2 linked regions of the Homo sapiens genome follow. The protein of the gene in region 1 purifies or fractionates together with the protein of each later gene. This does not show direct contact. Each region holds a gene or a part of one and is shown in the gene's direction. Other genes may lie near its edges.

Evidence for each region.
Region 2: the proteins of EHF (region 1) and CST6 purify together in Homo sapiens (affinity purification with mass spectrometry; 2 studies listed by BioGRID and IntAct, with this or other methods). This does not show direct contact.

Annotation. Positions count from the first base shown.
Region 1 is NC_000011.10:34,652,085-34,659,107, forward strand, and holds part of EHF (ETS homologous factor), read left to right. Parts: intron 1-4,823; coding exon 4,824-4,886; intron 4,887-6,448; coding exon 6,449-6,644; intron 6,645-6,747; coding exon 6,748-6,847; 3' UTR 6,848-7,023. UniProt on the Homo sapiens protein: Transcriptional activator that may play a role in regulating epithelial cell differentiation and proliferation.
Region 2 is NC_000011.10:66,007,237-66,014,027, forward strand, and holds CST6 (cystatin-M precursor), read left to right. Parts: upstream 1-4,771; 5' UTR 4,772-4,808; coding exon 4,809-5,048; intron 5,049-5,589; coding exon 5,590-5,715; intron 5,716-6,080; coding exon 6,081-6,164; 3' UTR 6,165-6,269; downstream 6,270-6,791.

The DNA of each region.
Region 1 (7,023 bases):
ACTTACTCTTGCAATATAGCTGCTAAAATTATTCATATTTGGGTATACTTATGGGAAATAAGGCTATATTTAATTTTCAACAAACTACATTTGGCTTTAGAGAAAGAATACCTCATAGTAAAATTCAAAGGTCCGTGAACCTGTAGTGATAGTTTCTGGGTGAAGGGGTAGCCATTGGAAACTTCCAGAATCCCCACAGTTACACTATTTTGTCAGTTTTTAAGTCTAATTCCGATGACTCATCAGTGCTCTCTAATCAGTCAGAGCACCTGCATTTTATGAGTTACGTTCACTTTAGCTGCATTTGGTTAAGCTTGGATGCAACTGGGGCTATCCATGCTCCTTAACCAAGGTTACACTGGGTGAGAAGTTTGGGATGTTGGGAGTCTGGGAGAGGGGATTTCAGATTACCACCCCCACCTACAAATAGGTGCATTGGCGTGTACAGTGTGGGAAATGGTTGAAAGAGGATCTTATGGTTTCCCGTGATCTGAGTATGAACTTGTGGATCTCTTTGGGTCTATGAAATGGCACTTAGACATCAGTCACAAGTGATAGTGCCTCTCTCCTGGAATTAAATTTGGAGCAACTTCAGAAATGGGATTTAATTGGGTCTTTGTGAAAGAAATTAGTCTGCAACCCTTCCTTCCTCTTTTTTTCTGTTTTTGTTTTTGCTTTTGAGAACTGAAATAATGAAAGGTTTTGGTTTGAGGTTTTGTTTGGGTCAAGCCCCTTAAATGAGATGGGGCTGGGAGCCAATGTAAATGCTTCTGGAATTGAGATTAAGAGCTGAGGCCAGCATAGCTCTCGACTTCTCCTTCCCCCAGTGGTCCTTAGCATTATGTGTCACTTGAGGTATTTGTTAAAATTAGGGAATAGATCAAACACTGGCAAGGCTTGGCTGTGTATTTGCTATTCTGGGGGAACTGAGCCAACCGGGGTAAAATTTCTGTGGCAATCATTGCCACTCAGTCAAGACCATGGGGTTCAGGGCTGAGGAAACCTCCCAAGTCACACTCTGAGTTCCTCTGCGACTTCCTACAGTGTCATCTCCCACATCCTTCCATCCTTCCATCCTTCCATCCTTCCATCCTTCCATCCTTCCATCCTTCCACTTGGGTCTTTGACTTACGGCAAAAAATTCCAACTAAGAATAAAGCTGAACCAACCACTTCCTGAGCCTCAGGGGCTAGTAGGTCTTGAGGCACCCGGGAAACAAAAACATCATAGTTACAGCTCTGCTGCCCTGACAGCTGGGCCATCCTCTTTTCTACATCTTGACTTACACCTTCTAGAATCTCAAAATCAATAGGGGCCTTAGAGGCCAGTTTCTGCTTTTGCATTTGCAGTAGCAAGGAACTCGCTCTCTCCTGAGTCCACCGATTGTATTTTTCAATAGTCCTTCTTAAGATGGGCTCAGGAATCTTCTCTCCTTACCCTTCTGATCCTTGTTTGCTGCAGCTCCCCATTTCTATCCTGTGATTGTAACCCAGGCTGGAAAATGAGATCAATCACCCAGGCCCTAAAGAATCAATGCAGTCTCTGGGGTTGGTGTATTCATTGGGGTAATAGCCCTTCAGTAGGATAGTTAATTACAGCCTTATATGGGTCAGTTTCTTTCAGAATAGTTTATAGTCTCTACTGCATGGAAGCAGAACCCCGGAAAAACCTTGGTCATTTGCCTGAGTCTTTATTTTTCGAGCTCCCATGTAATTGAATGCAGTGAAATATCTTTCTATGTTTTAATGCTAGTTACCAGCTGAGCTAAGGCGAGGCCCAGCGTAAACTGATGCCCTCTGTGATAAACGCAGGTGGGGAAATAGGCTTTGTTTTGATTTCTCTGTCATCTGCCCATTTCATAAAATGCCCGCTGCCGGTGTCCTGTTCTGCTCGACAGTCCTCCAGCCTGTCATGCCAGCTCGGGCTTGATGTGTTTATCCACTGACTTGTTGAGCCTAAAGCTAGGGTGGCACGGTCTATTAGAACACTGAAATTTGTATATCCCGTAAAGAAATGGCTCACAGCTGAATCATATGCAAATGCTTCTAATCTTTGCTTCTTGCGAAGCAGCTTAGCTGAAGTCACGCTCTCTCACTTGCATCACAAACCTGTGGCTTGTTGCTGCCCCTGCCTGGACTGGATAGGACCTTGGCCTGGAGTGCCTGGGAGCCAAGCAAGAGAAAGCCAGGCTGGACAACTTCTCCAGGGCAAGCCATTATTTTATAAGAATGAATCACTTAACCACATGGCTAACTTCAAAGGTCTTGACTTTTATCCTAGGGCAGAAGAAGGACACATATTAAAGAGAGGTTAAAGATCAAAAGATATCAGTGGTAAAGCAGGCCAGTGATTCCACGGCTTACCCCTGCACACTGCAACAGGCAGAGAGGTCTGGAAGAAATTAGGTTCTTCTTTTGCCTTTGACTGCTTATTCCCCTTTATGATGATGGAAAGATTTTTATTTGGGGATTAAAAAAAGAACGTTCCTAGCTGGGTGGAGCCTAGCTTGGGTAAACGGCTGACAACTCAAAGAATATTTCCTCATGGTTTATCTAGTGTAGAGGTTTTAGAGTCCATGGACTGCTGCATGGGCCACAGCCCCCTGAAATTGTTGACAAAATTTCATGTGTACATATATGTGCATTTTTTTCTGAGGAGAGGGTCCAAGGTTTTCGTCTTATTCACAAAGGCACCTGAACTCTGAAGTAACTGATTCTAGATCAACTAGGAACCCACAAACAATAATTGAGGCCAATATACTGAGAGACTCTTGTATTTTTCTGAATTCAACTCCTGGCTCTGAAATAATGGCCCTGCATCCCTCCTGGATGTCATTTGAAAATGAGCTTTGCTTGTGGCCTGCTGGGTAAATGCCACTCTTTGTCTGCAGTACAACGTGGCCCTGTCAGAGTGATGTATCACTTGGAAACCGGGGTGGATGCCAGACCTGTCGCAATATTGTCACATCCTGATGGGATGTTGCAACCTCACCCTGCAACCTACAGGGAGGGAGAGTGAAGTCTCCTTGCATTTCCTGTGAATTTGTCCTCTCGGATTTCAGAGAAACCCAAGTCAGGTGCAGGCCCTGCTAGTGACAATGCCAGGAGAGAAATTCTTAACCAGGATGAGAGGTTTCTTGTTTACTGAGGTCTTATTAAATCCCTCTCTCCATCCTGCCATGACGTTTCGAGAAATTGCTGGGAACACTGAGTCTTGATTAGCTGGGTGATAAGATGGTTGAAAGGGCCCATGAACGTTGGGAAATATAGAATTGTCAGATTGAAATTATCTTTTCTACTAACAAGAGCATTACAGAAGTGAACCTGATTCTTGGCAAGAAAGGCTTGTGTGAAATCTGTTATGTGCAAAGGGAGATTATGTGCCGGCCACCATTTCTGGAAATGACATAGAATCATGGTTATGAGTAAAGCTTCTGGATTCAAACTGTTTGTGTTCATATCCTGGCTCCACATTCCAGCTGTGTGACTCTAGTCAAGTCATTTGACCCCTCTGTTTCTCAGATCCTCCACAGCTGAAAACTGTGGATCATATTAGTACCTGTGTCATAGAGTTATTGTGTGAATTAAATAAAGTGATTCATTTAAAGTGCTTAGTACAGTGCCTGGTACATAGTAAGTGCTCAATAAACAGTAGCTTTTTTTTCTTAACCAATTTAATTAGGAGCTAATGGCTGGCAGTTCATAGCTTTTTTGAATAATAGGCTTCTCCTGATAATTGAATGGATGCTGTGAACCCTCTCCCTTCATATATGGTTTCAGTCAGTCCAGGGGCCCTTGAAGGCCACACTGGGTCAGTGGACCCTAGTTTAGGAAGGGCACATGAAAGAGATCAGTTTTACTGGCCCAATTTCTTAAAATAATTGGCTTGTATTTAGGGACTACTTTGTATTAAAATTGGCTGATTTTTGAGTGTGAGAGTCTTTGTAAGATCTACTTTGGTCCTCCCAATACACACACACACACACACACACACATATACACACACACACTCACACTCACACACACACGGCTAGATCATTTAGTTTTCTTTCTGAGAAGAATTTTTATTTCCCAGGTCCGCCTCCATCATCTCCTCTTTGGTAATAGTCGCAGAGGTTGCCATAATGAGTCATTTGTTAAACTAATCTGTGTTTCCATAGTCCACTGTGGCCCTCTGTATTGAGCTTGGGCCACTCAATGGCGCCTTTGTCAGGCTGATTAAAATGTAACTTTGCATGCCAAAAAAGGGCACTCCTCTGGCTTAAAAGTCATCTTCCTTTGTTATAAATGTTTACATTTTTCTATTATGCTAAAAAAAAAAAACCACAAATTTTTCAATGATCTAAATCTTTCAATGGCTTCCATCTTTCTCAGAGTCATGTCCTTAAAAGTCCCATAAGGGATTAATGATCAGAACCTCAGCTCCTCCCTCTCTGCCTCTTACAGCATGCATATACCAAACACACATCAACCTCAGGGCCTTTGCACTTCTATGTTACACATGGAAGGCTGTTGCACAAGCTCTCTGCATGACCTTTTCCCTCATATCCTTTAGGTCGTGGAATCAGAGAGGTCTCCTATGACCACCTTGTATCAAATTGCAAATTATTCCCAAGTCCATACATCTATCTCCATTTCTTAACCTGCATCATTTTTCTCCATAGCATTTATCATCTCTGTTTTGTTTGGTTCACTAGCACATACTCAAAGGTGCCAGGCATGCAGTAGGTGCTCAGTAAATATTGTTTAAATGAGTGGATGCATGAATAAAAAAGAGAATTATAGGAAATAGGTCAATTAAACGCCTCTCATTTTTCTCCTTAGCAGAGTCACCTGATATGAAAAAGGAGCAAGACCCCCCTGCCAAGTGCCACACCAAAAAGCACAGTAAGTTGGCTGGCTTTCAGATGGCCTTTGGTCCTTCCCATCACATCGGGCACATCTGGAGGCCACTAGTTTTTTGGCAAATATCGCCTCTGTCTGCTGCCTTCATGTCTTCATCCCAAACAGGGTGGAGTGAGAAAATAGAGGCATCACTTGCTAGCAAAGTAAGCCCCCTCTGCAGCTGTTTCTCAAAGTGGAGCCCCACTGGACATTTCCTCCCTGTTCTGTCATATGTGCTCTAAAACTGAGACACCCAGTGCCTAAGAACTGCTTGCAGGCATGGGGTTGGCAATTTCCTCTCTCCCAGAAGAAAAGGGTGGGAAGAGGAGCGAGATAAGAAGAAACAGCTGAGATGTATCATCCTTTCTTTTGCTAAATGTTGGCCTCCTACCTTTGTGGAGTTACCATTCCAAGAAATGACTGTTTTTTCTTAAGATTCAACACTGCTCTTTGGGAGTTGGGTCTCCTTCAGTAATAAAATCTTATGAACATATACGAAATATCAGAGACATGGAATTGTGGGTGGAACACAGAAAGAAATCAAGATGGTATAATCTAGGCCTGTAATCCCACCACTTTGGGAGACTGAGGTGGGTGGATCACTTGAGCTCAGGAGTTCAAGACCAGCTTGGGAAACATGACGAGACCCCATCTCTACAAAAAAATACAAAAATTAGCTGGGCATGGTGGCACGTGCCTGTAGTCCCATCTACTTGGGAGACTGAGGCAGGAGGATTGCTTGAGCCAGGGAGGTCTAGGCTGTGATGAACTGTAATTGCACCACTGTACTCCAGCTTGGGCCACAGAGTGATATCCTGTCTCAGAAAAAAAAAAAAGGTATAATCCAGAAATTATGAGGAATTAGAATGTCTTTATCTGCTCTTTCACATAATCCCACAAAACCATATTAATGCAACCCCTCGAAAGGTGGGTGGGGTGGGGGTGGGGCATCAAAAATTCAGTGGGAGTAAAGTTGAATTTGGTTGATAATCTTATTGCAGTAGTGGCTTCATTTTCAAATTGGGTCCTCCAGTCCCTGCGTGACCACCCCTTTCCCTACCACCCTCATCTATTCTGGGAGTAAACATTCTAGACCCTTACTGATTTGCATTTGGCTGAAACACAGTTGCTGGGTCAAAGCAATTTAATTGGTTGAGATACTGGATAAAAGTGGTTGAGAGTTGCTCTCTGGGGAAGTAACAGGTTGAAGTGAACCCCAAGCAATTTGTGGATAATAACTAGAAGAAACTTCCCCCTGGCTTAGGAGACCTAAGACCTATTGCTTAGTCTTGGCTATGTCACTAGTTAGCTGTGTGATCCTGATCAAGTCACTTAAGTTCTCTGTGCCTCGGTTTCCTGATTTGTAAAATAAAATATTGTGCTAGTTTATTCTTAAATACCTTTTTAATGTCCAACATCTGGTGATTCTGCGATCCATCTTCCCTGACAAGTAGGGGAGAAATGAGTATCTCCTACTTGCAGGAAGATGACCTAACTCAATGCTCTCTGCCCTATCTTTGCTGTGACTTAGATCATTAGTAACCTGCCTTTCTGCTTTTCATCAGACCCGAGAGGGACTCACTTATGGGAATTCATCCGCGACATCCTCTTGAACCCAGACAAGAACCCAGGATTAATAAAATGGGAAGACCGATCTGAGGGCGTCTTCAGGTTCTTGAAATCAGAGGCAGTGGCTCAGCTATGGGGTAAAAAGAAGAACAACAGCAGCATGACCTATGAAAAGCTCAGCCGAGCTATGAGGTGAGGAGTTTCATGTCTCTGAAAACAAAAAGGCTGTACGACCCATTATTTACCTAGCAACCTTCATCGGATCAGTCACCTTATGCAATCTCCTTTGTTACAGATATTACTACAAAAGAGAAATTCTGGAGCGTGTGGATGGACGAAGACTGGTATATAAATTTGGGAAGAATGCCCGAGGATGGAGAGAAAATGAAAACTGAAGCTGCCAATACTTTGGACACAAACCAAAACACACACCAAATAATCAGAAACAAAGAACTCCTGGACGTAAATATTTCAAAGACTACTTTTCTCTGATATTTATGTACCATGAGGGGAACAAGAAACTACTTCTAACGGGAAGAAGAAACACTACGGTCGATTAAAAAAATTATTT
Region 2 (6,791 bases), about 31 Mb from region 1:
CCCCAGAAAGGAAGTAGGGGGAGGCTACCTGGACCACCACAAGCCCTGCCCCCGGCAGCCTGCTGAGCATGGAAGGCTCCCAGCAGGTGCTTGTGACTGTTGATCCCTTTCCAGGCTGGCCCCTCCCTGTGGGGACCAGGGCTCTTTCCTGTCACTCCCAACCTTGACTGGTGGCAGCCTTGAAGAGCCAGCCAGGCCCGATTCTGGGGCTTTGCTCCCCATGCGATCTGGAGCAAGTTGCTTCACTCCCCTGAGCTACAGCCTCCTCTGCCAGCTGATAACAGGGTTGTGAAGATTCAACCAGTGAATCAGCAGCGCTTAGGAGCGCTCCTCCCCAGAGGGGAGCTTTAATCCCTGTTGGATTACAGGTTTCCTTGCTGAAAGATCTCCTTTCCAGGATATGGGGCTACAGAGCCCTGGGGGGAGGGCAATATCCTCTGCCCAACTGAAGGTTCAAGGAAGAGGGTTCTGGGGGAAGCATCGAAGCCTTGGAGAGCCTGATCCCAGAGGGAAGGAGATGTCAAGAACCTGCCCTGGTCATCTCCACCCATCAGGCCAGGGGCAAGAGAGGGGTGCTGTGGACAACCTGGGGTGGGATGTCTGGGCCACTGCAAAACTGGAGGCTCTGCCCTGTGGCCAGTACATTTGACCGACCTCAAGCTCACGCTTGGCGCAAACCTCCTGGAAGCCAGAGTGGTCCAGACGGGATGGAGTCAGGCCCTGGGAAAGTCTGCTCAGGGACACCCCATCTGCAAGAAACAACCCCTACACCATGCACAGCAGACCTCAAACCCCTGTGGAGCAGCCCAGGACTCATGCACCGGGACCCACCACTAACCTTTCCCCTTTGATCTCCCATTTCCTCCTTGTAGGAAGAGATAATAGTCATTGTCTGTGCAGAGCTGCTATGGGAATGAAAGAACATATATTGAATCCCTGGCGCAAGGCCTGGCACACAGCAAGAGTTCTTACCATTGTTAATCCTCCCCACCTTTTCTTACCAAGATACCACTTCTAGCTGTGTGACCTTAGACAAGTGTCCCGACCTCTCTGATTAACTTCTTCATCTGCAAAGTGAGGATAATGTGTACTCCCTCAGGGTGCTTGTGAGAATCAGTGGGTGAAAAGTGCTCAGAAATTGCTAGGTTGTACTGCAAAAAAAGTCCTTTGCATCAGCACAAAGCAGAGGCAGGTGGAGTGGGTGCCCTTGGTGAGTGGCAGACAGGCCTTGGCTAGTTTTTGAGAGAGCTGTTGGAGGTACCTGTGGCCATGGCTAAGCTCCAAGTGATGACACAGCAGGCCCAGGGGAGCTGCCTCTCCCACCTCGCCCCTGTGGCACGATCCTGGTACTCTTCCTCTACCCCTCCCAGGCTTTCAGCTCAGAGTCCTGGCCAGGCGTCATCCTCCTGATCAACTCAAGCTCGGCCAGCACTTCCACAAACTGGAGTCTGTCCCTTTAAGCCAGACACCTGAGGCCGCCAGGAACTTGTGACGGTTCCTTGGAATCCCAGGAAGATGGCAGAGTTGGTTTTCCACAGCTGGGCTGAGGAAGTGAGGTGGGTAGCAGGCTGGCAGCTGCCCTGGGCAGTGAGTGACCGCTGTGGTCTAGGTCTCTGTGTGGGAAATCACTTCCTTTTGTGGTCCTGGGATTCTAAGGCCCAGAATCAGGAAGGGAGGGTGACACGCTGGATGCCTACATACAATATCCATCACAGTGACAGTTGCCAGCTGCTCTTTACGTACTGTGACCTAGCACCTCTTCCAAGCCCCAGTGAAGCCCCTGGAGGCTCTAAGCACTGCAAGATCTTAGTGCCCCAGGGACAATAAGCCCCGCCCCCCAGCAACATGGAATTACAAATACAAACTACACTGAACTCTAAAATGCAGACAAATAATTCCAAGGCCTGCCTGTAATCCCAGCATTTTGGGAAGCTGAGGTGGGAGGATCTCGTGATCTCTTGAGGCCAGGCATTCGAGACCCACCTGGCACTACTGTGAGACCCCATCTCTACAAAAAAATATAAGAATTAGCCAGGTGTGGAAAAAAATTAACCAGGCATGGGGGCATGCGCCTGTGGTCCCAGCTACTTGGGAGGCTGAGATGGGAGGATAGCTTGAAGCCAGGAAGTCGAGTTATAGTGAGCTATGATAGCGCCACTGCACTCTAGCCTGGCTGACAGAGCGCTGTCACAAAAAAAAAAAAAAATTCAACAAAATCCAGACTTTTCTTGCGTTGACTACTTCAACACTGCTTTTCATCTGTTCCTTTTTTTTTTTGAGACAGAGTCTTGCTCTGTCACCCAGGTGGAGTGCAGTGGCACCATCACTGCTCACTGCAGCCTCGACCTCCCAGACTCTAGTAATCCTCCCACCTCAGCCTCCCGAGTAGCTGGGACCACAGGCGTGCACCACCATGCACAGCTAATTTATTTTAGATTTTTTGGTAGAGACGGCTCACTATGTTGCCCAGGCTGGTCTCAAACTCCTGGCCTCAAGTGATCCTCCTGCTTCCGACTCCCAAAGTCCTGGGATTACAGGTGTGAGCTACCGTGTGATTAATAGATCACCACCTATTAATAATAATCAATTAATTATTGGAGTCTTTTTTTTTTGAGATAGAGTCTTGCTCTGTCACCCAGGCTGGAGTGCAGTGGGTGCCGTCTCAGCTCACTGCAACCTCTGCCTCCCAGGTTCAAGTGATTCACCCACCTCAGCCTCCCAAGTAGCTGAGACTACAGGTGTGCACCACCACACCCAGCTAATTTTTGTATTTTTAGTAGAGATGGGGTGTTGGGAGCCGAAAGGGCCAAAGGGATTGTGACCAACTCAGCATTCCACTGAAGGCTATATGATCAAACAGCCACCTGTTTATCACGAATGCAGGATGTGGGCAAACTCCCACTGCCCTGCCACCAAAAGGTTTGCTGAGGGCCTTACTCCTTGGCACTGGGGTCCCTGAAGTTATCTACTGAGAAAATTAGCACCTATTGTTCAAAGGATGCAGTCTCACAAGCCTGCTGTGAACCAAAGTGCTGACCGACAATTACCTGACATACCCGACAATCACCCTCCCCCTTTCTCGCTATCTCTTTTGCCTACTACATACAGAGGGCTGTGTAAAGCTCAGGGCCCTTGTCCACTAGAGGCAAGGTGCCCCCTGACCCCTTCTTCCAAATATACTCTTTTGTCTCTTGTCTTTTATTCCCACGTTTGCCCGGCTTTGTTCAGTCCCCCTAGGTCCGTGCGGGCTATGATGGGGTTTCACCATGTTGGCCAGGCTGGTCTCGAACTCCTGGCCTCAAGTGATCTGCCCACCTCGGCCTCCCAAAGTGCTGGGATTACAGGCGTGAGCCACCACACCTGGCAATTATTGGAGTCTTTAAAAACACAGTCATGGGCCTTGTTTGCTGGTACCTCCAGCACATGCTCACTGTATCCACGGGACAGCCAGATTCGAAACATCAATATCAGAACAAACTTAGGAGATAAGGTGTCTTTCAGACGAGGGCACGGAGGCTCTGTGTGGGAGGTTGAGGGACTTGCCCAAAGCCATGCCGTCAGTAAGATGGCAGAGCTGACATGACTGACACCCCCTCCTTCTGGGCAGTTTGTGTCCTGTGGGCTCAGTCTGGTTTAAGACCACAGATTTGACTTAGACTGTCAGCACACACAAGCCAGTGTCACCATTTATTTCCTGCCGGTGTCTTTGGGCAAATCCATTTTCCCTTCTCTGTAAAGTGGAAACTATTTTTTTTCTTTTTTCTTTTTTTTTTTTGTGAGACAGAGTCTCTCTCTGTCACCCAGGCTAGAGCGCAGTGGTGCCATTTTGGCTCACTGCAACCTCTGCCTCCCAGGTTCAAGCAATTCCCCTGCCTCAGCCTTCTGAGTAGCTGGGAATTCAGGTGTGTGCCACCACGCCTGGCTAATTTTTGTATTTTTGGTAGAGACGGGGTTTCACCATGTTGGCCAGGCTGGTCTTGAACTCCTGACCTCAAGTGATCTGCCTGCCTCGGCCTCCCAAAGTGCTGGGATTACAAGTGTGAGCCCTCATGCCCGGCCTTCTTTTTTTTTTTTTTTTTTTTTTTTTTTTTTGAGTCAGCGTCTAGCTCTGTCGCCCAGGCTGGAATGCTGCAGTGGTGAGATCACGATTCACTGACTTGAACTCCTTGGCTCAAGTGGTCCTCCCACCTTGGCCTCTCAAAGTGCTGGAATTACAAGCATGCCTAGGTGCCTGGCCAGGTAGAAACATTAGTCACTCGCGCTCCAGGAAGGTTGTCAGGCAGCGCTGAGCAGTAATGTGTCCTACTCACCTGCTGTTTATCCAGCACCAGACCTCTTCTAAGAACTTTACCTGTTTCAGCTCACTGAATCCTCACAACACCCATTGTACAGAAGAGGAAACTGAGGCAGCGAGTGGTTAAGTGACTTCTCCGAGGTTACACAGCTAGGAAATGGTGGCAACAGTAAGAGCCCACGAAGAGCTGCGGTTGGTAGTTCATTCTGGACAGCCCTCCCGTGAACCGTCCCTGTACTGGCACTTGTTGCTGGGGACTGTCGCTGTCCTCTCCCTCCCCGGGCCAGGTGTGTCCTGGAGGGCAGGGAAGCGTCTTGGCACGCGGGTGCGCGCCGCCCCCTCGGCCTCCTGGGCTCCCTGAACCTCGCAGGACCCCGGCAACTTCGAGCCCCGCCCCAGCTCCAGGCCGCGGGGGCGCATCGCGGGCGTCGGGCGGGGCGGCCCAGCGGGTAAAAGCTGCGCGGCCGCAAGCTCGGCACTCACGGCTCTGAGGGCTCCGACGGCACTGACGGCCATGGCGCGTTCGAACCTCCCGCTGGCGCTGGGCCTGGCCCTGGTCGCATTCTGCCTCCTGGCGCTGCCACGCGACGCCCGGGCCCGGCCGCAGGAGCGCATGGTCGGAGAACTCCGGGACCTGTCGCCCGACGACCCGCAGGTGCAGAAGGCGGCGCAGGCGGCCGTGGCCAGCTACAACATGGGCAGCAACAGCATCTACTACTTCCGAGACACGCACATCATCAAGGCGCAGAGCCAGGTGCGGCGGGCGGGGTGCTGGGAGGGGACACCCGGCCCAGATGGGGGAGGCCACAGGCGCTGCCCCAGCGTGCATGAAGGGGGCCTAAAAGCGCAATCGGGATATTTTCATGCAATATTTTAAAAATCGAATTAATGCTAAAACTCCACGATGGACAACCATCTAAATTTCAAGGAAAGACATAATTAAACCCTGTATTGCACTACCTGCCTTCCTGGCTTGCCTGGTCCTAGTCTCTGCCCTGATGGGGTGGATCGGGGAGGAGGGAAGGCAGGTGGGGACAGTGGGCAGCTCCCTAGATGGGGCATGTCTGATGTCTGCCAAGGCTGCTGGTGGGGCTCAGCCTCCAGGCCTCTCCACCCTCCATCCCCACCAGAACTCCCCCCCCCACCCCCCCCCACCCCCCCCCACCCCGTCTGAATCATCCCCTCTCCCTCTCTCCCCACCTGAGTGCCTGGGGGCAACAGGAGAATATATCAAGAGGTGAGAAGTGAGGATCAAGGGTCAAGACCCCTGACCTGCCCCTACCCTATGCCCCCAGCTGGTGGCCGGCATCAAGTACTTCCTGACGATGGAGATGGGGAGCACAGACTGCCGCAAGACCAGGGTCACTGGAGACCACGTCGACCTCACCACTTGCCCCCTGGCAGCAGGGGCGCAGCAGGAGGTAACAGCTGGGCTCCTCCAGCCCCAGCCCTCCCCAGAGCCTCAGGCACTCAGGTTGTCCATCCTGAACTGGTTTGGCTGGACACGTAGATGTCTAGATGTCTGGCTGAACCTGTCGTCCTTCTGGATGAGTCAGCCTCTGGGCCAAGATGGGGTGCAGAAAGGAAGCTGGGGCTTCCCTCGGGAATGGGGAAGTTGGCTACCAAGATCTGGAGTCTAGCCCCAGACATGCGGCTTGACATCCGTTGGGTCAGTGATTGTCCCTCTCTTGGCCTGGAGCAGCCTGGCAGGCAGAGGGCTGGCTGTTGGGAGGAGACAGGTCGAGGCTGGGCTCACCCCTCCTTCTCCCCCATATTCCCTCCACAGAAGCTGCGCTGTGACTTTGAGGTCCTTGTGGTTCCCTGGCAGAACTCCTCTCAGCTCCTAAAGCACAACTGTGTGCAGATGTGATAAGTCCCCGAGGGCGAAGGCCATTGGGTTTGGGGCCATGGTGGAGGGCACTTCAGGTCCGTGGGCCGTATCTGTCACAATAAATGGCCAGTGCTGCTTCTTGCATTGGTTTCTTCCAAGTGCTTCGCTTCTGCCCCCATCCCCCACTCCCACTTCTGGCAGCTCCCAGCTCCCCAGCCCAAGCTGAGAGGTCACCCTGCCACCTGCAGCAGAGCTGCTGCTGTCCCAGCCCAGACAGTGCTGAAGGTGCAGGGCTGAGCCTCCAAATGTGGAGCCCCCAAACACCCCAGCATCACAGGCATAGAGGAACAAACCTTAGAGCCCCCACACACAGCCAGAGACTCCCAATATTCTCAGAGGTCAGGGGTGGCGGCAGACTCACAGAGGAGGGGCGATGGCCTGAGATAAGAACAGGGCCGGCTGCCTGGGAGCACTCTGAGGAGGAGTCTGTGCTGTGCTCCCACTCAGCCCCAGGAGGAGCTCATGGGTGGCATGGGGGGCTTCAATCAGGCAGTGTCCTCACCCAGGACACTGAGCTCCCAGCCTATAAAGATTCCTCCACCTGCATGTGGCCCAACGATGGCAGAGTCCCTGCAGGCCAAGAGACCATGAAGGCTAGGACAGTGC